Linked DNA regions of Homo sapiens. The protein of the gene in region 3 purifies or fractionates together with the protein of the main gene of each other region. This does not show direct contact. Each region holds a gene or a part of one and is shown on either strand. Other genes may lie near its edges.

Region 1 (3,500 bases), on a different chromosome or scaffold from region 3:
TGGAGGTTGCCGAGAACTGAGATAGCACCACTGCACTCCAGCCGGGGCCACAGAGCTAGACTCTGTCTCAAAAAACAAAAATATAAACAAACAAACAAACAAACAAACAAAACCCCCACAATGCATAAAAGAAGAAATTAACAAATTGGGAAAAATTAAAACTTCTGATTTGGCCAGGCGTGGTGGCTCACGCCTGTAATTCTAGCACTTTGGGAGGCCAAGGCAGGCAGATCACCTGAGGTCAAGAGTTTGAGACCAGCCTGGCCAACATGGTGAAACCCCGTCTCTACTAAAAATACAAAAAATTAGCTGGGTGTGGTGGCACATGCCTGTACTCCCAGCTACCCAGGAGGCTGAGGCAGGAGAATCACCGGAACCTGGGAGGCGGAGGCTGCAGTGAACCAAGATCGTGCCACTGCACTCTAGCCAGGGCGACAGAGTGAAACTCTGTCTCAAAAAGAAAAACTAAATAAAGCTTCTGGTTTTCAAAAGAGAAGCCACAGACTGTGAGAAAATATTTGCAAATCATGAATCTAATAAAGGATGTTGTTTCAGGGTCTAATATCCAGCATCAATAAGGAACTTAAACAAACTTACAAGAACAAAACAACCCCCATTAAAAAGTGAATATAAAAAGGACATGAACAGACACTTTTCAAAAGACAAGCATGTGGCCAAGAAGCATATGAAAAAAAGCTCAACATTACTGATAATTAAAGAAATGCAAATCAAAACCACAATGAAATACCATCTGACACAGTCAGAATGGCTATTATTAAAAAGTCAAAAAATAACAGATGCTGGTGAAGTTGCAGAGAAAAAGGAACATTTATACACTGTTGGTGGGAGTGTAAATTAGTTCAACCATGTGGGAGACAGTGTGGTGATTCCTTAAAGACCAAAAAACAGAAGCAGCATTTGACCCAGCAATCTCATTACTGGGTATATATACCCAAAGGAATATAAACCATTGTATCATAAAGACACATGCATGTGTATGTTTACTGCAGCACAACTCACAATAGCAAAGACATGGAATCAACTTAAATGCCCATCAGTGGTAGACTGGATAAAGAAAATGTGGTACGTATACACCATGGAATACTATGCAGCCATGTTCCTTTGCAAGAACATGGATGCAGCTGGAAGCCATTATCCTTAGCAAACTAATGCAGGAACAGGAAACCAAATACCGCATGTTCTCACTTATAAGTGGGAGCTAAATGATGAGAACACATGGACACATACAGGGGAACAACAGACACTGGGTCCTATCAGAGGGTGGAGGGAGGGAGAAGGGAGAGGATCAGGAAAAATAACTAATAGGTACTAGGCTTAATACCTGGGTGATGAAATAATATGTACAACAAACCCCATGACACACGTTTACCTATATAACAAACCTGTACAGGTACCACTTAATTTAAAAGTTTAAAAGAAAAAAAAAAAAGATGTTTCCAGAATATATAAGAAAACCACCTGAATTTTTTTAAATTGGCAAAAGATTTGATCAGGCCTCACCAAAGAAGATATACAAATAGCAAACATGCACATGGAAAGATCATTAGTCACTAGGGAAATGTGAATTAAAATTACAATGAAAAACTACTACACATCTATTAGAATGGCTAAAATTAAGACTAACCATATCAAGTCTATTACAATGTGGAACAAGAACAACACTCACGCTGCTGGTGGAAATGTAAAATGCTACAATCACTTGGAAAAAAAATTTGGCACTTCCTTAAAAAGTTAAATGTACACCCACCTTATGATCTAGCCATTCCATTCCTAGATATTTGCCCAAGAGAAAGGAAGGCATGTGCCCATACAAAGACTGTTCACAAATGTTCCATTTTATTTGTAATTGCCCCAAACTGGAGCCAGCCAAAATGTCCATCAGTAGGTGAATGGATAAACCAGCTGTGATACATCCACACAATATGTGTGGGAATATGACTCAGCAGTGAAAGAGAATGAACTATTGACACACCTTTCAACATGGATGAATCTCCAAATAAAGATGTTGAGTGAAAGAGGCTAGACAAACAAAAAGTACTGTATGATTCCATTTATATAAACTCTAGAATCAAACTAATTTATAGTGGCAGAAAGGTCATTGTTTGCCTAAGGCTGTGGGGGGCGGGTAGGGGAAGAGGCAGGGCTAGGGGCTAGAGGAAGGGATTACCAAGGAGCATGAGGAGATTTTGGGGTGTGATGGGTATGTTTGTTGTCTTGATTGTGGTAAGAGTTTTACCACACTTTAAATACGTCAATAAAGCTATTAAAAAAAATGGCACAGAGAGATTAAGTAACTTGGCCAAGGTCTCACAATAATAACAAAATGCCATCAAGTAGACATACCATATTTAATGACTACCCTATTATTGGATATTGTGTTGTTGTCAATTAGAAATAAAGCTGTGATATAATCACTCTGTGTTGGGTATCTTTATACTGAAGCCTATTTCCTTTTTCCTTAAGCCAGGTTTCGAGAAGTAAAATTACTAGATGGGCCAAAAAGTATGTACATTTCGAAGGCTATTAAACAAGAGGGTTTCCAGGAAGCTTGTAACAAGACCCATGTCTCTCAGTCACTTCTGTAGCCCATTTTTTACCAGCACACTTCCTTATCAGGAAGGGGTAAGTAGATTCCTTTTTGCCTCTCATTTTTGCTCACGAATTCCCCATTCCTGACTTCCTGTGGAAACGCAAAGGGTTCCCCTGACCTATTATGACCCATCTCTCCCCTGGTGGCTGTGAGGCTTGAGGACAGCAATGGCAGGGAGTATCTTCTATGACTGTGGGCATTGGTCCTGTCCACTCTGCAATGCCCTTGGCTAAAATCATCTCCCTATGAGTCACTTGCACCAGGGGCAGTGCCCCACCTGCTCCCAGAGCCCGGAAAAGTGCTACTCTCACCTGTTTCTTGGTGTCCACTTCCAGAATGTCCATCAGGTTGATCATGATGTTTTTGTGTGTCTTCTTGTACTTCCCGACACGTAGTGAGACAGTGAGCCAGCCAGGGCGCCCCGTGCACATGAAGGTCTTGCTACCCTGCTCCTTCCATTCCCGCACCTGCAACCACAGGACAGAGGGTGAGCTGGCCCCACTGGGAATCCCCAGAGCAGCCTGCAGCCCTGCTTTCTTCAAGGGCGAGCTGGGAATGATGCCTCCATCAGGCACTGGAGAAACAGAACAATGAAAAGGCCTGCTGGCCCTACCCTCTGGCACCTCCCTGGCCAGCAAGGCTGACAGAAAAGCCAACATATTGCTACACCACAAGGCAGAATGATGAAAGAGCTAGAAGAGAGGATCGAAGTGTTCTGAAAACATTAACTCTAGCTGGGAAGTTCAGAAAAGGTTTTGTAATGGTGATAATAGCAAGTATAAAAATGAGGACCATTTACTGGGTATTCCCAACACACTAGGCATCTACTGCACACTGTCTTGTGTAATTCCTACAACAGTCCCAGGAAGTTACGATGACACCCTTTTTT
Region 2 (3,500 bases), on a different chromosome or scaffold from region 3:
GAGATGGCACCGCTGCACTCCATCCTGGGCAACAGAGTAAGACTCCGTCTCAAAAAAAAAAGTATAGCAAATACAATAATGTATAGTACATATACTTGAGAATGACAATAAACAACTGTGTTACTGGTTTATGTGTTTACTATACATATACTATACTTTTTGTTATGTTAGTATACTCCTACTTTTTTTTAAAGTTAACTATAAAATAGCCTCAAGGCAGGTCTTGAAGGCAAGAGCTACTCTAGAAGAAGGCTTCTTATCATAAGAGATGACAGATCCATGCATGTTAATGCCCTTGAAGATCTTCCAGTGGGACAAGATGTAGAGGAGGACAGGGATACTGATGATTCTGACCTTGTGTAGGCCTAGGCTAATGTATCTGTGTCTTAGTTTTTAACAAAGAAGTTTAAAAGTTTAAAAAAAAAAATTTTTTTAATAAGACAAAGCTTATAGAGTAGGGATATAAAGAAAATATTTTTGTGAAGCTGTACAATGTGCTTGTGTTTTAAGCTAAGTGTTACTTATTTTTTAAGAGACAAAGTCTCCCTATTTGTCCAGGCTGGTATCGAATTCCTGAGATTAAGCAATCCTCCCACCTTAGCCTTCCAAGTAGCTGTACGTTAAGCTAAATGTTACTAAAAAAAGTTAAAAAAATTTAAAAGTTCATAAAGTTAAAAAGTTACATACAGTAAGCTAAGGTTAATTATCGAAGAAAAGTATGTTATAAATTTAGTGTAGCCTAAGGGGTATAGTGTTTAAACAGTATACTACAGTAGCATTCAGTAATGTCCTAGGCCTTTACTTTCACTCACCCACTGACCCAGAGCAGCTTCCAGTCTGACAAGCTCCATGTTAAGTGCTCTAAACAGGTGTACCATTTTTTATCTTTTATACTGTATTTTTACTGGATCTTTTCTATGTTTAGGTACCCAAATATTTACCACTGTGTTACAGTTGCCCACAGTATTCAGCACAATAAAATGCAGTACAGGTTTGTAGCCTAGGATCAATAGGTTATGCCATATAGCATAGGTGCGTAGGAGACTGTACTATCTAGGTTTGTGTCAGTATACTTGATGAAATCCACTAATGATGCACTTATTGGAACGCATCTCTACTGTTAAGTGATGCATGACTATATATTAGGTGGTTGGTAAATTTTTGAGCCAACAAGCAGAAAATTATTAGTCCAAAGAGTAGCAACTGCATATACACACACACATAAATCCAATATTATTCAAGTGAGACACATGATCTAAAGTAAATACTTCAGGTAATACACCAAAGAAAACATTGGGAAACATATCTTTTCAAACAGTATGGAAGATTTCTTTCTTTTCTTTTTTGAGACAGAGTCTTGCTCTGTCACCCAGGCTGGAGTGCAGTGGTGTGACCTCGGCTCACTGCAACCTGTCTTCTGGGTTCAAGTGATTCTTCTGCCTCAGCCTCCTGAGTAGCTGGGATTACAAGTGCACGCCACCATGCCAAGCTAATTTTTGTATTTTTAGTAGAGACATAGGGTTTCACAATGTTGGCCAGGCTTGTCTTGAACTCCTGATCTCAGGTGATCCACACACCTCAGCCTCCCAAAGTGTTGGGATTACAGGCATAAGTTACTGTGCCCAGCCTGGAGATTTCTTAAAGAACTAGAATAGACATAAAAAGAACTAGAGTAGGTCTACCATTTGATTCAGCAATTCTACTACTGGGTATCTACCCAAAGGAAAAGAAGTCATTATATCAAAAAGACACCTGCATGTGTATGTTTATTGCAGCACAATTCACCATTGCAAAGATATGGAACTGGCCAGGCACGGTGGCTCATGCCTGTAATCCCAGCACTTTGGGAGGCAGAGGTGGGTGGGTCACCTGAGGTCAGGAGTTCAAGACCAGCCTGGCCAACATGGAGAAACCCCATCTCTACTAAAAACACAAAATTAGCTGGGCATGGTGGCGCATGCTTGTAATCCCAGCTAGTCGGGAGGCTGAGGCAGGAGAATCGCTTGAACCCGGGCAGCAGAGGCTGCAGTAAGCCGAGATTGTGCCATTGCACTCCAGCCTGGGCAACAAGAGTGAAACTCTGTCTCAAAAAAAAAAAAAAAAAGATAGGGAACCAACCTAAGTGCCCACTGATAAAAGTGTAGTATATATACCCATGGAATACTACTCGGCCATTAAAAAACAAACATGAAATAATGTCTTGCAGCAACTTAGATGGATTTGGAGGCCAATATCCTAAGTGAAGTAACTCAGAAATGGGAAACCAAATACCATATGTTCTCACTTATAAGTGGGAGCTAAACTGCAGGTACACAAAAGCATACAGAGTGACATAACGGACTATGGAGACTCAGAGGAGGGGGGTGGCAGAGCATGTAAGTGATTAAAAAAAAACTACATATTGGGTACAATGTACACTTGGGTGATGAGTGCACTAAAATCTCAGACTTTACCACTATACAATTCATCCATGTGACCAAAAACCACTTGTACCACAAAAGATATTGAAATAAAAAATAATAAATATATCTTTTCTCTCTTCAGTGTACTGAGACTTGTCAAACGAGGCAGAACCTAGGAACATACCCCTCAGCTCTTAATGACATGAAATCTACTCTAGAAAACAGGTTACATTTTGAAATGAAAGCTACAATATTAAGGTACAATCCAGGTAAATCTAGTGGAATACAAAGTAAGAAAATCAGGTTTTGCTTAGGATAGTCAGTGAAGGCTACTCATGAGAATCCGCTCTGAAATAAAAATGACTAACAAAAGACAGGAAAGTACTCCAGGAAGGAAAAATAACCCTAAAAGGATTAGCCCACATATAGAACCTCAGGAGATCAGAAATGCACCAGCCTCTAAAAACAAGTCCTGCAACACGATTACATGACTACATTGCAAAAAGCTGTCAATGATATACATCTGGCAATAAGAAAACTATTATAAATTCTCAGCATTTATAAAATATTAACCTGATGATCACGTATAGTCACTGTAAAAGAAAATGAGCTAGAATTAGGTACATTAATCTGCGTGTGAGAAAATAAAATGGGTATTAATTTGTCACCATGATGACACACTTATACCCAGTTAAAATATACCTGAGATGGTTTGATGTTTCTCTTAAAATGGTTTTATTGTTTTAAATTTCTCAAACTCAAAAAGCATATATTATACTTGAATCACAGCTTTATAGAAGTAGCAAATAACTCTGGAACACTTACTGTATGAGAAACAATGTTTCAATACTTATTGACCAACTGTTACTTTTTCTTTTTTTTTTTTTGAGATAGAGTTTTGCTCTGTCGCCCAGGGGGGCACGATGTCCACTCACTGCAACCTAAATAACTCTGGAACACTTACTGTATGAGAAACAATGTTTCAATACTTATTGACCAATTGTTACTTACTTACTTTCTTTCTTTTTTTGAGACAGAGTTTTGCTCTGTCACCCAGGCTGGAGTGCAATGGCAGGATCTCAGCTCATTGCAACCTCC
Region 3 (3,500 bases):
TCCTTTTTCACCTTGCTCCCAGGATCTGAACTGACTGCTCAGGTGGTCAGGAACTATAACCTCCATGGACAAAGGTAGATACCCTCTCGTGACCCTCTTAGACTCCATTGGCACTTAGATTTATTGCTTAATGCACTGTATTGTAAACATGTCTTTACTGGTCTGTTTTAGCCACGAGACTGGAGCCTTTTGAAGACAAGAATTAATTATGTGTTAGCATTATAATCTGCCATTTATTGGGTACTTACTAAATGCTGAACACTATGCTAGGTGTTTCGTCTGTAGTATCTAAAATATTTATAACAGCTGCCGGGCGCAGTGGCTCACACCTGTAATCCCAGCACTTTGGGAGGCCAAGGTGGGTGGATCACTTGAGGTCAGGTGTTCAAGACCAGCCTGGCCAACATGGTGAAACCCTGTCTCTACTAAAAATACAAAAATTAGCCAGGCATGGTGGCACACACCTGCGATACCAGCTACTCCGGAGGCTGAGGCAGGAAAATTGTTTGAACCCAGGAGGCGGAGGTTGCAGTGAGCCAAGATTGCACCACTGCACTCCAGCCTGGGTGACAGAACAAGACTCCATCTCAAAAAAAAAAAAAATGTATATATATATATATATATATATATATATATTTATATTTATAACAGCTTTTCAAAGTATGTATTATTATCTCCATTTATCAGGCAAAAAAAACTGAGTAAAAGAGTGTCCTTTGCCCATCATCATTCACTCATTTAGTAAACATTTATTGTAGCCTTACACACCAGGACTTACGCTACATGCTGTAGACATGAGGATGAACAAAGCTGATACCACTCTGCCTTCATGGAACTTCTTGGTGGGTAGAGGAGACGATATTCAAAAATTATTTTACAACCCATGGCAAGTGTAATGTAGCCTGAAGCCTATCTGACTGCCCTGGATTGAAGCCACCTCTACCCTTACCAGCTAAGCAACCTTGGGCAGCTCTGTTAACCTCTCTGCACCTCATCTTCCTTTTCTGTAAAATGGGGATAATAGTAGTAGCAACTCCATAGGGGTGCTGTGAAGAATTAAAAAATTAACCCAGGCACACAGAGAAGGGCCCCTGCACATTCCAGGCATATTGCTGCTGCTGCTGATGATGATGATGATATGAAAGAGAGGCATGGGGTGCTCGTATGTGATAGAGCAGGACCTACTTCAGGGGACATCTGATTGAGGTCTACAAGATGAATAGGTGTTACCTTGGCAAAGTGTGTGGGAGGCAGGGGAGGGGAACAGAGTGTTGGAGGGATGTTCCAGGCAGAGAGAACAGCATGTCAAAGCATAGGGGGCGGGCTTACCTGAGGAACTGCAAGGAGTGAAGCTGAAATGGGCCCGGCTGGGAAGCAGGAGCCTGTGCTACAAACACAGCTCCAGGACCGGGTTCTCTGCACCACAGTCTTGATCCAGGCCATGGGAGGTGCTCAGTAAATGTTTGTCAAGTGAGCGAGCAGCTCATGGACAAACGGCTATGCTGGGCCCACATGGTTCTGTTGTCACCCAAGTCCATTGTCCCATATACAGCATGATATGTAGACAGCCCCTTCCCAGCTGTCACACTGTATACATCCATGTTTTGGTCCCTCTTTTCTTGACAGTAAACTAAATCCTGTGAGTTTGGGTGCAGACCTCCAATATCTGGGACTCACTGAGGTGGCCGCAGCTAGAATCCCCATGCTATAGCCAGGGGCTCAGATCTAAGCCAATGGTATTCAGACTCTTTAGTAGCAGAACTCTGCCTTGAAATAATCTTAGCAGAAATCCAGTATATGGTACAGGGACAGGCAGAGCTTCTGCCCTTGAGGGGCAGACATAGGGCCTCAGCCCCTGTGCACCTGAGAAAACACTAGGGCTCTGTAAAGCACAGTTAGAAAAACTAGGGTTGAACCCAAACCCCATCTTCCAGGTGGGGAAACTTAAGATCCAGAGAGGGAGTGACTCTCCGGAGTCACTAGGGACAGACCCAGAACTGGCCCCAGACATCTGGTATCAATTCTGCTACACCAAGATTTTCCGGCACTTCGCCCTAACTGCCCCCAGCCCCTCTCATCGTGCAGGGAGTCTTGAGATGGGGTGGGGGCACATGGATGTGGTCTTGTCAAGAGTCTAGCCTCCAGCCCCAGTTAGGGCATGGCCCACATGAGACAAAAATCCACAGGGCAGGCATGGGTGGGTTGCTCAGGGTCATGGCCTGGTTATGCCATGTCTTTTTTTTTTTCCTGCTGCTGCTTCTTTTTTAATTGAGTTTGAGGTGGTTGTTTTTTGTTTCCTTAAGAAATGGAAAAGAATGAAGCTGCGTAAATACAACTATATTAACTCCCTGGAAAACCTCCTGCCATTTTAACTCTGTTACTGGAGAAATAAAAGAGAAATAATTTGTCCACCCACACTTAGCTCTTTCTGACGAAGGTAGGTGAATATTGCTTTGCTAATCGAGGGTGACTGCTGGAAGTGGAGCCACGCTGACTGATCCCAGATTGAGAGGCAGCCACAGCCACCCCAAAAGGGGTGGCAGAGCCCTGCCTGTGGACAGGGCCGGAGTCATCGGCCCGCATGGCCCATCTTCCACAGGTCTCCCCCAGCCGATAGTGATGGAGGCACTGGACGAGGCTGAAGGGCTCCAGGACTCACAGAGAGAGATGCCGCCACCCCCTCCTCCCTCGCCGCCCTCAGATCCAGCTCAGAAGCCACCACCTCGAGGCGCTGGGAGCCACTCCCTCACTGTCAGGAGCAGCCTGTGCCTGTTCGCTGCCTCACAGTTCCTGGTAAGGATGGCACAGGCCTCACAAGGGTCTGGAGAGAGGGTGGGTGGAGGGCCAGCCTCCCACTTCCTCCCCAGGATGGCCACCTGGAAGGCAGGAGGATAAGGGGCCTCCCTGGTGTTCCTCAGGAGCTCCAAGCCCTCAAGGCTGGGATAAGGGGAAGGCTGGAATTCTGAGCTACCGCACCAGCATCTGAGACCTCACACCCTGCCTCCCTAACCTAAGAATCCAGAACACAGGGCCTCCCCGACCCCTGAGCTCCCAGCCGTACAGGGTTCTCCTGAGAACTCCTGTCTGTGGAGGCCTTTCTAGGAGACTACTCTTTTGATGTACATATTTGTGAGGTCCTCTCTGGAAAGGGCTTTCTCTTGGTTCCCTTCAGTCAGCTTTTCTCCAAGGAGAGTCCTGAGGCCTCCCCGGGCACGCAGCACCGGGGCCCTGCTCTCAGCTGCCCGGTCTGGACCTTAGAGGTTCAGGAGCCTCCATGCAGGGCCAGGTTGAGGCTGCAGGTGAGCTCTGCTGGGGGAACACGGGGGAAGGGGGCCGGCTCCATACTCAGCCTGCTCCCCTGTGCCCCAGCTTGCCTGTGGGGTGCTCTGGTTCAGCGGTTATGGCCACATCTGGTCACAGAACGCCACAAACCTCGTCTCCTCTTTGCTGACGCTCCTGAAACAGCTGGAACCCACGGTAAGTAAGCTTTGGGGAGTCCT
Region 4 (3,500 bases), on a different chromosome or scaffold from region 3:
CTCCCAGATTCAAGTGGTTCTTCCGCCTCAGTCTCCCGAGTAGCTGGGATTACAGGTGCCCCCCACCATGCCTGGCTAATTTTTTGTATTTTCAGTAGAGATGAGGTTTCACTGTGTTGGCAAGGCTGATCTCAAACGCCTGACCTCCCAAAGTGCTGGGATTACAGGTGTGAGCCACCGCACCCAGCCAGGAAAGGCTTTCTTAAGTTTATTACTAGGTATTTTCTTCTTTTGAAAATTGTAAAAGAAATTTTCTTTTCATTTGTTCATTGCTGGTGTATAAAAGCACTAATTTTTTGTGTGCTGATCTTTTACCCTGCAACTTTGATGAATTCATTTATGAGCTCTAGCTGTGTGTGTGTGTGTGTGCGCGCGCGCGCATGTGTGTGTGTGTATTTTACAGCACTTTCTATATACAGAATCATGTCATGAGGCCCATTATTAAATGAAAATTAATTTGTATCTCATAATGGTCTAGTACACGTTTAGTTCCATAAAACATCATAAGACAAAATGACTTTAACAAATCCATGGTTTCAAAAAATGCACTTTATGCTTTAAAAAACTAAATGGGAGGCAAAGCCCAACAATCCCTCAAGAGAATCTTATGAAAAGGATTAGAACTCTCAGTTGGCAAACATACTTGTTGGCAACAGAAATCTCCTTAGATATCCTAAGGAGATATCCTGGTTACATCTAAATTCTTTCATGAATGTGTACAGTTCTCAGAAGTCAAAGTTGTGGTCAGAAGGCATGGATTACTGCCATAGACACTGGTTATAGTTACACAGACTTTTTTTTAAAGGCACATTGAAATTCTGAGTTAACAGGTGAACATGAGAAAGAAAAAAGAAAATTCTTAAAACATCAATAGAGTAGGAAGGAAAGAAAAGCTGAAATCTCTAGGTTAAAAAAAATCATCACAGAAATTCACCAGTAAAATTTCTGAGAAATGAGAAAAATCCATTGGAAAAATCTGACAGGCATAATCAAAATAAAGAAAAAAAAGATACAATATCAAAAAGTTGAATCTAATTGGATATTGTCAGAATGTAATTAAGAATATGCTCACAACACTGTGCCTATAGTTAACAATACTGTATTCGACATGGAAAAATTTGTTAAGAGGACAGATCTCATGTTAAGTGTTCTTACTACAATTTTGTTTTTTAAAAGGGAATACACTTATACTCATAGAAATTTTGCTGTGTAGAAACAGAGAAGAAAAGTCAAGTCTTCGGCTATTCAGGAATACAAAATGTCCATCAAATTGTTATAATTAACTTTTATAAAGAAGCATTCATAATGTTCTTTAGGATTAGTAGCTCTTGCCAGGCAGTGGCTCACGCCTGCAATCCCAGCACTTTGGGAGGCTGAGGCAGGCGGATCACCTGAGGTCGGGAGTTCGAGACCAGCCTGACCAACATGGAGAAACCCTGACTCTACTAAAAATACAAAACTAGCTGGGCATGGTGGCGCATGCCTGTAATCCCAGCTACTCAGGGGGCTGAGGCAGAATTGCTTGAACCCAGGAGGCAGAGGATGTGGTGAGCTGAGATCACGCCATTGCACTCCAGCCTGGGCAACAAGGGCAAAACTCTCTCTCAAAAAAGAAAAAAAAAATTAGTAGCTCTCTAACTCATTAATGGATATTTCTAGCAACTAATTTTATGCAAATGTCATGTTCTAAAGCTTTATAAACTCCCAGATGGCAATAATGATTTAAACTCTGAAATCTTAGACTTGCAACAATAACATATTAAGAGAATATATAGAGATGAGAATATCTTGAGATAATAAATAATTAAGCTTAGTAATAATGATCCCCAACTAGATGCCTGGCAGTGTGGTGGGTGCTGGGATATAGAATCAGTAAAACAGACTTATTCCTATCCTCAATATTTATCTAATGGAGAAGACTGCTATTAAATAATTATAGGTGTGAAGAATTTAGTAAGGGAGAATCTCAGGATTCCAAGGGAACACAGAGCAAGAAGGTGTGGGGCGCCCCTGAGCAATTTTCCTTTAAATGGAGATGTGAAGAATGAGTGGCAGTCAGCCAGGCAGAGGGGAGAGAAAGCTCAAGAGAGAAAATTTTAGACAGAACAACATATGAGAAAGCTTAATGTAGAAATAGCTAGAGTGGAAAGAGAATTGTAGAGTCCATAGTGAGGGAGACAGTAGAGCAAGACAAAGCCGGAAAATTCTCCAGAGCTCTCATGATGCAGGTGTGGTGGGTGACAGTTTTTTTGTAAATGCCAATGTTTTTGGTAGCACTGTCACCCCCTCTGTCTTAGGTGCTCACAAGAACATCAAGATCAATATATTATGAATTTCATCTAATATACAGGCCCTTTTAATAAAAGGCATATTTATATCAAGGTGAAAGTGCCTACTTACAGTATCAAGTATTTCTTTGGTATGAGCTGCTGACAGGCAAAACCTGGCTCTGGACTCAATAATTGGGGTGGCAGGAAATCCAACCACAACGACACCGATGTTCCGCTTCAGCATCTCCCGTCCAAAGGCGCTGCAAAGGGGAAAACAAGAACAGAAACCAGGAGGAGTGAAAAAGCACTCATTACAGAGGACCTGCTGTCCTCAAAGATTTCAACTCTTTGGTGATGCAGGCATTGGAGACTTCTAATAGGAGTTTCCTTTAACTCCTTTTAAAGTTAAAATTGACAGCTCACAAATACTTTTAAAGTCAATCCTAAAGCAGTCTTCTCCTATATGGTGTCCTTCACAAAACTGAAATAACCAGCCTGGGCAACATGGTGAAATCCCGTCTCTACCAAAAATACAAAAAATTAGCTATGTGTGGTGGCATGCACCTGTAGTCCCAGCTACTCAGGAGGCTGAGGCATGAGAATCTCTCGAAGCTTGGAGGCAGAAGCTGTAGTAAGGCAAGATCACACGACTGTACTCCAGCCTGAGCAACAGAGCAAGGCTCTGTCTCAAAAAAAAAAAAAAGTGTCCCTGATATGTAATAGTGGTTCAGAGGCTTCAAAATGAACCTGTATTTAATTAAAATCTGGTCCTTGAAATGTTAAGCTTGGCAGTTTAACATTAATCCGCAAATTCTGAGGATTCTGCAGCTGTGGGGGATCTGCTGTAACACGGCACATCTTTTCTGCTAGCAGAATGGCTGACTGGCATGAGCTCTCCAGATCACACGTTTCTTTAATTGTCTTGGGAACAACACTGCTTCAGAATTCAGGGCTTCCTTTGGTGTCTGTCAGGCCAGTTCACCCGCTGGCTTCAGCTGATTACTCAGACCACACAATTCGTATTTAACAATCCCCCACCCCTATCGTAAGCCAAATTGGAGGCCCTGTGGCCTTACTCCACATCTGTATCTTGTCTAAATAACACATTCTAACTTTTAGTTAATTTTGTCTACTAAATTATGTGGGTTTTTTTTTGAGTCTCTCGCTTTGTCGCCAGGCTGCAGTGCAGTGGCACGATCTTGGCTCACCATAACCTCCACCTCCCAGATT
Region 5 (3,500 bases), about 53 Mb from region 3:
GAGCCTGGCTTTGTGCCTCTCACGTGGGTGCAGACTGGAACCGCATCCCAACTCTGCCCCCAGAAGCTCCCTGTTTTGAGGGGTGGATGGGCTGAGGTGCTCCCCAACAATTACAGAGGGGGCCAGGCATACCACAGGGGCATCCTCACTTGCTTCTGCCCCTCAGCCCTGACCTCCCTATCAGACTGCACACCTGTCACTCAGCCTATGGCCAGTTAACGAGATGCAGAACCAAAGGATGGACTCAGCCTCCCCTCCCTCTTCCTAGGAGCAGGTAGTTCCTTGGCCAAGGGTATAGGGGCCTCAGAGATGGTTCCTGGGGCCCCAGATGAGGGTCCGCAGCAGCAGAGGCCCAGAAAGTGACCAGGGCCCCCGCCAGGCATGCTTCAGCCCAGCCAAGCTCCTCACTGCGGGTTGGGAAAGCGCCTTCATTTCTGAATCCTTCATCTGCAGGGGTTGTGAACAAGTATCAGATCAATGGCCTGCAAGCCTGGCTCCTCACGCACCTGCTCTGGTTTGCAAACGCTCATCTCCTGTCCTGGTTCTCGCCCACCATCATCTTCGACAACTGGATCCCACTGCTGTGGTGCGCCAACATCCTTGGCTATGCCGTCTCCACCTTCGCCATGGTCAAGGGCTACTTCTTCCCCACCAGCGCCAGAGACTGGTATGTTCTTAGCAGCGGGTCCAGCCTGATGTAGAAAGTGCAAACTTCACCCCTGGCCTTTCTTGCTGCCTGGGGCAGGTGGTTGTAAAGCCCTGAGCACTGAGAATCCGTGGAAGAGGAGGAGGGGGATGGAACTTGCTTCACCCTGGGGAACATCCTTTCTGAATGTTTGGTGGCTTCTCCAGCCTTGGCAAGAATGCAGCTGAAGATGGCCAGGTCAGCTGTGGTGGCCAAGTCATTGCCTTTAGGGCTGGCGTGGGGGTAAGGAAGCCAGGAAAAACTTCTGGCTTGGGGCACAGGCAGCCCATTGCCTCTTTCTTTGGATAAGCTGGTGAGGCCCAAAACAACCTTAGTGAAGAGTCTTATTGTCCCTGTGGCTTTAATTAACAGCTTCCCAGGAGAGCCCTGCTGGCTTGTACCCATTCCCATGGCTGGACAGTGGTGAGCCACTCATCTCTGTCCACTCATCCATTCACCTGCCCATCTCCCCACCCACCCATCCACCCCCCTACCCATTCATCTACCTACTCACCCATCATCCACCTACCCATTGCCCCATCCCATTCACCCACCCACCAATGCATCATCCATCCACCTATCCATCACCCACATCCACCCACCCATCATCCATCCATCTACCCTCCCATCACCCATTCATCCATCTGCCCATCCACCTACCCACCCACCTACACATCTAGCCACACACCCATCCACCTGCCCATCTCCCCATCCTTCCACCTACCCACCCACCCATCCATCATCCATCTCATCCACCTGCCCATCCACCCTCCACCCCGTCTGTCTACCCACCCGTCATCTATTTGTCCATCCACCTATCCACCTACCCACCCACCTACACATCTAGCCACCCACCCATCCACCTGCCCGTCATCCATCCATTTACCCATCCATCCACTCTATCAGGGCCTGTAATGGCATGTGCCGAGGGGAAGGAATGCATCATCTCATCCAGGTCAACCTCCTGCCTGAGCAATGTCCGCAGCTCCTGACCGGCCTCCCTTACCCTCTCAGGCCCTCCTAGCCTGCTCCCTCTGGCTTCCTGGGTGACACTTCTGAACACACCTGATCCCTGCCACCCTGCACCCCAGCTCAACCCTGCCTATCATATATCCATCCACCTGCTCCTCTCCCCATCCCATTCATCCATCCTTCCACCCACTCACCCTGTTATCTATCCATCCATCCATCATAAACCAATGTTTGGGGGGTTCTCTTGTGGACAGTTGTAGGCAGTGGGACTTACAGTTCAGTTTGGGGGATCCAAAAAACCCCAGTGTGGTTTACACCTAGGCTCTTGGGAAATGTTTCTGGAGGATGACACTTTGTAGCTTGTGTGTTATCAGATAACGAGGCTGGCCTTCAATGGCTCCTGGAAATCATCCTCGCTACCTTATAATCATGTAGACTTTGTGTGTTTTGCTTCTTTCTACTTACCCTACCTGAGGGAACTGGACATGAAAATAGGATTTTCTAGTTAACACAGAAATTGTTGTGTGTCCTCAGCCAGCTAGACCTAGTCAGGGTCTCCACAGGGGTTATCTCGGCTGATGCTCTGGCCCTCCGGGGATTGGGGGATTCAGGTAACTGGTCAAAGAACTTGTCCTGCACATGCTGGAAGCCGGGCCCAGGGTGCGTTTGTCATTCTCTACGTTGGCGTGATTTATAATGTCACTCACCCATGAGGGCCCACGTGCCCTGCGTCGGCTTCAAACCGTGTGCTTGGGCCCCAGAACGTAATCTCAGTGCAATCAAGCCAGTTCTTCAGCTCACCTGTGCCATGCGTCAAGGGCATCTGGAGAAGGGTAGAGAGAAACCCAGGTACCAGCCCAGGGCCGGTCTCCCACCCTTCCCGGGTGCAGAGCAGGTGCCCCTGGGCTTCTGCCTAAGGAAGTCTCTGCTGAGCAGCAGCTGAATGCAAAGCAAAGTGAATGAGGGCGCCAGGAACCAGCCGACAAGCATTCCAGCCGTGGGGGTCCCAGCGGCTCATGGCCAGCTTCTGCCTGCGCCGTCTCACGTTACCCTTTAGGACCCTGGGCCAGTGCTGGGCTCTCGCTAAGTAAGGTGGCTTCATCTTGTGAGATATGCTCATCCACTAAATGTATCTTTTATTTATATTTTTAAGCAAATTCACAGGCAATTTCTTTTACAACTACATGATGGGCATCGAGTTTAACCCTCGGATCGGGAAGTGGTTTGACTTCAAGCTGTTCTTCAATGGGCGCCCCGGGATCGTCGCCTGGACCCTCATCAACCTGTCCTTCGCAGCGAAGCAGCGGGAGCTCCACAGCCATGTGACCAATGCCATGGTCCTGGTCAACGTCCTGCAGGTGCCTGTCATGGCTGGAGAGGGTGAAACGCCGATGCCGGCAGGCTCTGGGGGAACCCGCAAGCCAGAGCGTATTCCCATGACCTTAATCTACTGCTTGTAAAAGAGAGTCAGCTGCCCTCCCCAGGTGTCACCAGGAAGCAGCCGGCGAGCACTTGGTGAAGGAAGCCATCCTTGGGTGCCTGTCTCTGCCAGCCCTGGGAGGGGAGGAGGCAGGTTCTACGCAGCCAGGCGTGGTCCAGGAAGGTCTCCCTTGGGGATTACACCTGGGTAGAATCTGGGGGTGTGTGGGAGTTAACCTGGTAGAGTGGAGGCAAGAGTGCATGCTCCAGGAACCCCCTGTAGGGAGAGAGGGTGGCAAGTCTGGGACACTCAGAAACATCCCGCATCCTGACCAGAGAGCGTTCAGGAGCTCAGAGCCAGGTGAGGCTGGAGGCCTCATGGAAGTCTTCCTCTTTATCTTAAAAGCAGCAAGACCCAGAAAGT
Region 6 (3,500 bases), on a different chromosome or scaffold from region 3:
GTGCTCAAAAAAAAAAAAAAAAACAGTCCCATAATGATGGCGCTTTCTCAAAAAGATACAAAAGCCAAATGAAAGATGGGCAGGATGAGGACATAACCAAAGGCCAGTTAGTGCCAAAGCTGGAAGAATTTGAGCAACAAAATAAATAATATTAGATTATAACTCAAAGTATAAAATAAATACCCATGTACTCACATGATATAAATGATTGAATAAATAAATGGGAGACAATAGACATGCATAATTATTCTCCTATGCAGAAGAATTCCAAATAAATTATGTAGATACTCCCTCCATCTAAAGGACAGGAAGCATAACTCCCTGCTCCTTAAATGTAGGCTACACATAGTGACTTCCTTCCAAGGAGAGCCAAGAGGAAAATAACCTTATGGTAGAGAAACCTGATAAGCGTCACCTCAAGCCAGCTAACCCATGGTTAATATCAACAGTGATGTGTCACGTTGACAGTATGTACTTTTTTTTTTTTTTTTTGAGACTCTCGCTCTGTTGCCCAGGCTGGAGTGCAGTGGCGTGATCTCGGCTCACGGCAAGCCCCGCCTCCCGAGTTCACGCCATTCTCCTGCCTCAGCCTCCTGAGCAGCTCCGACTACAGGCATGCACCACCACGCCCGGCTAATTTTTTGTATTTTTAGTAGAGACAGGGTTTCACTGTGCTAGCCAGGATGGTCTCTATCTCCTGACCTCGTGATCCACGCACCTTGGCCTCCCAAAGTGCTGGGATTACAGGCGTGAGCCACCGTGCCCGGCCGTATGTACTCTTGATATGATGTGATAAGAATTGCACTTTACTTCAGTGGTCTTCTCCTCAACATCTATCACCTTAGTCTAGTTGTAAGAGAAACATCAGACAGATTTCAACCGAAGGAAAGTCTATAAAATACATAGCCAATACTTCTTGAAAATCACATCACCAGGTCTTTAAATGAATTTGTAACTTTGTAGCTATTCTTTCAGACCGAGAGGTATCTGAAGTGGCCTGAATAACGTGGGTTCCCCATGATTTGTCCTCAATGGCTAGATCCTAGGATCCTTACTAACCTTAGCTCTGAGCTCCATTTCCGCATCAGATTCATCCAGCCAACGATCAAAGTCAGGAGCCAAAAACAGTGGTCGCTTTTCCTGCTTTGTGAGTCTCTCCCACCACTGACTCACTTTCTTCTGTACTGTAATGTTTACCTGCCTCTGGGTCAGTTTGTAAACAGGCTAGGAGAGAAAGTGAAAATGTGAGAATGCCCTCTTCTGTTCCCTGAAGCAGCACCATGCCAGGGGCGCCGTACATAGAAGCTGCAGGATATATTTATTCTCCTTCTTTCTCTGGTCCTGCAAGTCCTGATGCAAAGGGAACATCTAGACCAGGGGTCTCCAACTCCTGGGCCATGGACTGATACTGGTCCATGGCCTGTTGGGAATCGGGCCACACAGGAGGAGCTGAGTGGTGGGCAAGTGAGTGAAACTTCACCTATATTTAGACTCGCTCTCCATCACTTGCATTACTGCCTAAGCCCTGCCTCCTGTCAGATCAGCATTGGCACAAGATTCACATAGGAGCGTGAACTCTATTGTGAATTGTGCATGCAAGGAATCTAGGTTGCTCACTCTTTATGAGACTATAATGCCTGATGATCTGTCACTGTCTCCCATCACCCCCAGATGGGACTGTCTAGTTGCAAGAAAACAAGCTCAGGGCTCTCACTGATTCTACATTATGGTGAGTTGTATTCATTATATATTACAATGTAATAATAACAGAAATAAAGTGCACAACAAATGTAATGCATTTGAATCACCCTGAAACCATCCCCATTCCACCATCTGTGGAAAAAGTGCCTTCCACAAAATTGGTCCCTGGTGCCAAAAAGGTTGATCTAGACCAACGGCTGGCATGGAGAACTGGTAAGGACATAATGTCCTTCTCTGATTCCCCCAGTGAATGATACAGGAGGATATCAGGATAAGAAAGGCAAATAGTTCCTGGTTAGGCTGGAGGGAACTAGCATGAACCTCCTGCCACAGCCACATCATGCAAGGTACTATGTCCAATCACCCTCTCAAGGGTACTGCATCCAATTACCCTCAGCTTATAAATTTTCCTCCCATGAAAATGACTGTCCTGGCTCAGCAGACCCCGGTTTTAGAAACACCTGCATCAAGATCAGAACTGTATTGGATCAGTTACAGATTTTTTCACAGGGGTCAATTTGGGGAGTCTTCCCAACTAAACTCAAATTCTTATAGGCCATTCCAGCTCATTGTTTGTCTACATGTCCTGTCCCTTTTCTCCAAAGGAAGCTCCATGACAGGTTCTCTGCCCACTGTACCACTGGTTATTATTCATGCTTTCTCAAAACAACTGAGCACCTGCGCACGGAAATCAAGAAGCTCAAGCCACCAGAGCTAAGTGTAATTCCAGAAGCCAAAATACCCCATCTATTGGATTCTCTCCCTGCTTATGAGAGAAGCTTCCTCAGGCTCTAAGGGAAGGGAAGTTTTGATGATATCTGCAGCATTCTTTCTGAAGGCCAGCTGCCTTCACCCTTTCTGATTTCTATTTTTCTCACCTGCAACTGTGGCAAAGTCACATGAAAGTAACCCCTGGTGGGGGCTTCAACCACTCTATGTAACTCTGTTCTCAATGGGTGCCATATTCCTCTGCCATCACTAAAACCAGAGAATATCAGAGCTGGAAGGATCACTTAGTCCAGACCTTCATTTAACACATGAGAACACCAGAACTCGAAGAAGTTAAGAGACTTGTTCAAGATCACACTGCTAATAAATGGCAGGGCCCTGACTCAACTTGGGGTCTCTGACTTTCCCATTCCTCTGCAGCTAAAACCTGGGCTCTGTTCCAAATAAAAGAACTCTATTATTCCCCTTTGGTTTTTATCTTCTTCTCTCCACAAACCCTGCTCCCCATTTCACTAAACTACTGGTATTCATTTCCTAAAATGGGAAGGGAAGTGAGAAAGGAAAGAACATACCTCTGGTTTCACAAGGTCTAAGAACTCCAGGTGAAATTCATAGACATTGTCTCCTTTGGCACCATGTCCTTGAGCTATAAAGAAAGAAATGTGGGTTACTGCAAACTTGAGCAGAGCAAGGCCATCCAAAAGCCAGCTTGGTGCAGTTCTTTCCCAAGTATGCGAATATTACACTTTTTTTTTTTTGAGACAGAGTCTTGCTCTGTTGCCCAGGCTGGAGTGCAGTGGCATGATCTCGGCTCACTGCAAGCTCCGCCTCCCGGGTTCATGCCATTCTCCTGCCTCAGCCTCCCGAGTAGCTGGGACTACAGGCTCCCGCCACCATGCCCAGATAATTTTTTTTATTTTTAGTAGAGACGGGGTTTCACCGTGTTAACCAGGATGGTCTCGATCTCCTGACCTTGTGATCCACCCGCCTCAGCCTCCCAAAGTGCTGGGATTACAGACATGAGCCACTGTACCTGGCACGAATATCATACTTGATTGTAGCCAAAAGGC
Region 7 (3,500 bases), on a different chromosome or scaffold from region 3:
TTCCCAGGCCTGTGGCAGGATCTGTGGACCTGTGTGTCCCCTGGGGTGTCTCATGGGGCTAAGGAGGGGACCTTTGTGCAGGTCTACGCACCCTGAGGTGTGCCCTGGGTAAGCTGGGGTGGTGTGGGAGGGCGTCCCTGCACCCTCATCTTGAGTCCAGGGGATGATAAGACAGTAAGTCCCGTGGAGAAAAGGAATGAGTCAGTCTTGTTTGCTGTTGTAACCTTAGCACCCAGCAACAATATTAGAGAAAGCAAGCCCAGGCCTCAGATGGCAGGGGTGGCCTGGTGCTGCTGATGTGGCTGGGCACCCCAACCTCTGGGAGCCTGCAGGCCTCGCCACGGCAGGAGATGCCTCTCCTGGGTCCCGGGCCTGCTCTATGGCCTCTCACAGGCTTTTTTTCTGCTCCTTCAGCTCAGAACCTGAGGACCCAGTCACGGAGCGGTCGGCCTTCACGGAGCGGGATGCTGGGAGCGGGCTGGTGACGCGTCTCCGTGAGCGGCCAGCCCTGCTGGTCAGCAGCACGAGCTGGACAGGTCTGCAGGACCCCTGGGGCACTTGGGGTTGGTGTGACGGGCACCTGGCCAACCTGTGTTCTCCTCACCCCTGCCAGTCCTGCATGCTCCCACCCTGCCACGGTCTCAATGAGAACGGGAGGGCCTGTGAGCTGGAAGAGGGGTGTCTAGAAACAGGCCCCTGACATTCAATTCTCTTCTCATAGAGGACGAAGACTTCTCCATCCTGCTGGCAGCTTTAGAAAGTAGGTGTGTGGCTGCGGTGAGGAGCTCTGGGCTTGTCGGGGGCCACTGAGCTGTAAGCTGCTTGCCTGGCCTGCAGCATGTTCCTGTCCCAGGCCACTGGGTGGGGCAGCCTGGGGACAGCGGGGGTGGTGGAAGTGGGCCGCCCTGAATCCCCAGTTGGGTCATTGAGTGACCAGGCCCTCAGGCTGAAATGCCCCCTCCAGGAGAGTATCTCACACAGGCTGGTGGCCTCCCCGCCAGAGCAGTGCTCTTTCTCCACCTGACCAGGTGACTCTGGCTATTGTTTATTTAAAAATTTTTTTCTGAATGGGCATGGTGGCTCAAACCTGTAATCCTAGAACTCTGGGAGGCCGAGGCAGGCAGATCATCTGAGGTCAGGAGTTCGAGACCAACCTGGCCAACAGGGCGAAACCTGTCTCTACTAAAAATACAAAAATTAGCTAGGTATGGTGGTGGGCGCCTGTCATCCCAGCTACTTGGGAGGCTGATGCACGAGAATTACTTGAACCCAGGAGGCAGAGGTTGCAGTGAGCTGAGATCGCGCCATTGCATTCCAGCCTGGGTGACAGAGTGAGAGTCTGTCAGAAAAAAAAAAAAATTCTATCAGAAATTCCATGTAGAATTGTTTCTTTTTCTAAACACAGAGTTTGAACAACTGACTCTTGATGGACACAACCTTCCTTCTCTCGTCTGTGTGATAACAGGTACTGCCTGGGACCCTGGGTGTCTGTTTGGTTGGGGGATGGCGGAGGGGGAGGGGCACGCAGCCTTTACCCTGTGCTTCCCATGATCTTGTCTCCTTAATCCTCACTGCAGCTCTGCCATAGGGTCTTATACTGCTTGACATGGGGGAAACTGAGGCTCAGAGGCAGGGCAGGGAGCCCAGATTTGAATCTGTAGATACCAAGCTTTCTACTTTTTCAGTAGTTTCCAAGCATCTTTTTTTTGTTGTTGTTACGTCATTGGTGTCTTTTTTTTTTTTTTTTGAGACAGAGTCTCTGTCGCCCAGGCTGGAGTGCAGTGGTGCGATCTCGGCTCACTGCAACCTCCGCCTCCCACATTCAAGCAATTCTCATGCCCCAGCCTCCCGAGTGGCTGGGACTACAGGTGCCCACCACAACTGCCTAATTTTTGTATTTTTAGTAGAGACAGGGTTTCACCATGTTGGCCAGGCTGGTCTTGAACTCCTGACCTCAGGTGATCCACCCGCCTTGGCCTCCCAATATGCTGGAATTACAGGCACAAATCACTGTGCCCGGCCATGTCATTGGTGCCTTAACCAAGCCTCTTAATTTTTCAAACGGAAGAGCCCCTGTCCCACAGTTACTGCTGCTGAGCCCTTTCAAGGTGACTCAGTGAGGAGGGAGAAAAGCGGAAGCGGTGTGGGAAGAGGCCGGGTCTGGGCCAGCTGCTGGTCCTGCTCTCCTCCCTCCTCTGGCCTCTAGGCTCCCAGGAGTGGTTTGGAACCCGCGCCATATGCTCTGGGGGCTGTGCCAGGGCAGGAGGAGTCCTCGTGTCCCCTGTGCACAACACAGACAAAAGGCTGGGTCCACCCAGTGGGCGGTCGGGTGCCAGGCCAGTGCTTACCCCGCCATGTTTGCAGCCCGAGGCCAGCTGGCTGCAGGTGAAAGGCTATGCGTCAGGGGTCAGGGTGCACACACCCCTGCAGGTCTCAGGGCTCCTGGGTTGCTTCTGGAAGGGCCCGGATGGGGCCTGACTGGAGCTGCTGAGGGGTGGAGCTTCTGGGAAAGGGATCCCTCCTAGGGGGGAGTGTCTTGGGCCTGGGGCCACGTGGCAGGGACAGAGATGGGTCCATGGCAGTGTCTGCTCTTCTCTGTGAAGGCAAAGGGCCTCTGAGGGAGTATTATAGCCGCCTCATCCACCAGAAGCACTTCCAGCACATCCAGGTCTGCACCCCCTGGCTGGAGGCCGAGGACTACCCCCTGCTTCTAGGTGAGAGGCCAGCAGGAGGCTCAGGGAGGAGGCGGGGGGAACAGGGTGGGCGGGATGTACTTTTTCTGAAAAGGTGGCTCTGGAGGCCACTGGGGGACGGGACCTGGGCTCTGGCTGAACTCCCAGGAGGAGGCTACTTCCTGGTGTGCCAGCCCCTCCCTGCCAGGTGGCCCCAGGGGCCGTTTACCAAGGGGTTTGAGGAGGCCACGTCCTTTCAGCCTGCCACGCCCTCCATTCAGTCCTCTTCCTTCCTGCAGGAGGGCTGGGCCTGGGGTTGGGGCCACTGTTGCCCAGGTGTGGGAGGGCAGTGGCTTTGGGAGGTACGGGGACGATGTGTCAAACAGCGTCGCCTCTCCCAGTGAGATGGTTCTCCTTTGCCTCCGTCTCTTTCCCCGTTGATTTCTCCAAGTGGGGAGTCGTGCCTTGGTCCTGATGCGTCTCTAGAGCTGCATCTTCCAGCTTCGAGTGAGCAGAGCAGTTGGAGGCTGAAGGCCTTTTCCTGGCAGGACTCTCCACCTAGTCTTTGTTTTAGACAGTCTCGCTCCGTTGCCTAGGCTGGAGTGCATGATCTCAGTTCATGCAACCTCTGCCTCCTGGGTTCAAGCGATTTTCCCACCTCAGCCTCCCGAGTAGATTACGGGATTACAGGAGCCCACCACAACACCTGGCTTATTTTTGTATTTTTAGTAGAGACAGGGTTTCACCATGTTGGCCAGGCTGGTCTTGAACTCCTGACCTCAAGTGATCCTCCTGCCTTGGCCTTCCTAAGTGCTTGGATTCCAGGTG

The links.
Region 1: the proteins of PTPN5 (region 3) and DHCR24 purify together in Homo sapiens (affinity purification with mass spectrometry, with the first as the bait; one large-scale study listed by BioGRID). This does not show direct contact.
Region 2: the proteins of PTPN5 (region 3) and TOMM70 purify together in Homo sapiens (affinity purification with mass spectrometry; one large-scale study listed by BioGRID and IntAct). This does not show direct contact.
Region 4: the proteins of PTPN5 (region 3) and SPTLC2 purify together in Homo sapiens (affinity purification with mass spectrometry, with the first as the bait; one large-scale study listed by BioGRID). This does not show direct contact.
Region 5: the proteins of PTPN5 (region 3) and DHCR7 purify together in Homo sapiens (affinity purification with mass spectrometry, with the first as the bait; one large-scale study listed by BioGRID). This does not show direct contact.
Region 6: the proteins of PTPN5 (region 3) and HACD3 purify together in Homo sapiens (affinity purification with mass spectrometry, with the first as the bait; one large-scale study listed by BioGRID). This does not show direct contact.
Region 7: the proteins of PTPN5 (region 3) and ALG1 purify together in Homo sapiens (affinity purification with mass spectrometry, with the first as the bait; one large-scale study listed by BioGRID). This does not show direct contact.

The regions. Positions count from the first base shown.
Region 1 is NC_000001.11:54,880,696-54,884,195, forward strand, and holds part of DHCR24 (delta(24)-sterol reductase precursor), read right to left. Parts: intron 3,079-3,500; coding exon 2,923-3,078; intron 1-2,922. UniProt on the Homo sapiens protein: Catalyzes the reduction of the delta-24 double bond of sterol intermediates during cholesterol biosynthesis.
Region 2 is NC_000003.12:100,391,090-100,394,589, forward strand, and holds part of TOMM70 (mitochondrial import receptor subunit TOM70), read right to left. Parts: intron 1-3,500. UniProt on the Homo sapiens protein: Acts as a receptor of the preprotein translocase complex of the outer mitochondrial membrane (TOM complex). Recognizes and mediates the translocation of mitochondrial preproteins from the cytosol into the mitochondria in a chaperone dependent manner.
Region 3 is NC_000011.10:18,743,299-18,746,798, reverse strand, and holds part of PTPN5 (tyrosine-protein phosphatase non-receptor type 5), read left to right. Parts: intron 1-2,599; coding exon 2,600-2,793; intron 2,794-3,369; coding exon 3,370-3,477; intron 3,478-3,500. UniProt on the Homo sapiens protein: May regulate the activity of several effector molecules involved in synaptic plasticity and neuronal cell survival, including MAPKs, Src family kinases and NMDA receptors.
Region 4 is NC_000014.9:77,515,638-77,519,137, forward strand, and holds part of SPTLC2 (serine palmitoyltransferase 2), read right to left. Parts: intron 2,531-3,500; coding exon 2,401-2,530; intron 1-2,400. UniProt on the Homo sapiens protein: Component of the serine palmitoyltransferase multisubunit enzyme (SPT) that catalyzes the initial and rate-limiting step in sphingolipid biosynthesis by condensing L-serine and activated acyl-CoA (most commonly palmitoyl-CoA) to form long-chain bases.
Region 5 is NC_000011.10:71,438,394-71,441,893, reverse strand, and holds part of DHCR7 (7-dehydrocholesterol reductase), read left to right. Parts: intron 1-453; coding exon 454-667; intron 668-1,057; coding exon of another isoform or gene 1,058-1,108; intron 1,109-2,810; coding exon 2,811-3,015; intron 3,016-3,500. UniProt on the Homo sapiens protein: Oxidoreductase that catalyzes the last step of the cholesterol synthesis pathway, which transforms cholesta-5,7-dien-3beta-ol (7-dehydrocholesterol,7-DHC) into cholesterol by reducing the C7-C8 double bond of its sterol core.
Region 6 is NC_000015.10:65,554,463-65,557,962, reverse strand, and holds part of HACD3 (very-long-chain (3R)-3-hydroxyacyl-CoA dehydratase 3), read right to left. Parts: intron 3,077-3,500; coding exon 3,003-3,076; intron 1,225-3,002; coding exon 1,060-1,224; intron 1-1,059. UniProt on the Homo sapiens protein: Catalyzes the third of the four reactions of the long-chain fatty acids elongation cycle. This endoplasmic reticulum-bound enzymatic process, allows the addition of two carbons to the chain of long- and very long-chain fatty acids/VLCFAs per cycle.
Region 7 is NC_000016.10:5,078,343-5,081,842, forward strand, and holds part of ALG1 (chitobiosyldiphosphodolichol beta-mannosyltransferase), read left to right. Parts: intron 1-414; coding exon 415-536; intron 537-721; coding exon 722-760; exon of another isoform or gene 761-764; intron 765-1,405; coding exon 1,406-1,465; intron 1,466-2,603; coding exon 2,604-2,714; intron 2,715-3,500. UniProt on the Homo sapiens protein: Mannosyltransferase that operates in the biosynthetic pathway of dolichol-linked oligosaccharides, the glycan precursors employed in protein asparagine (N)-glycosylation.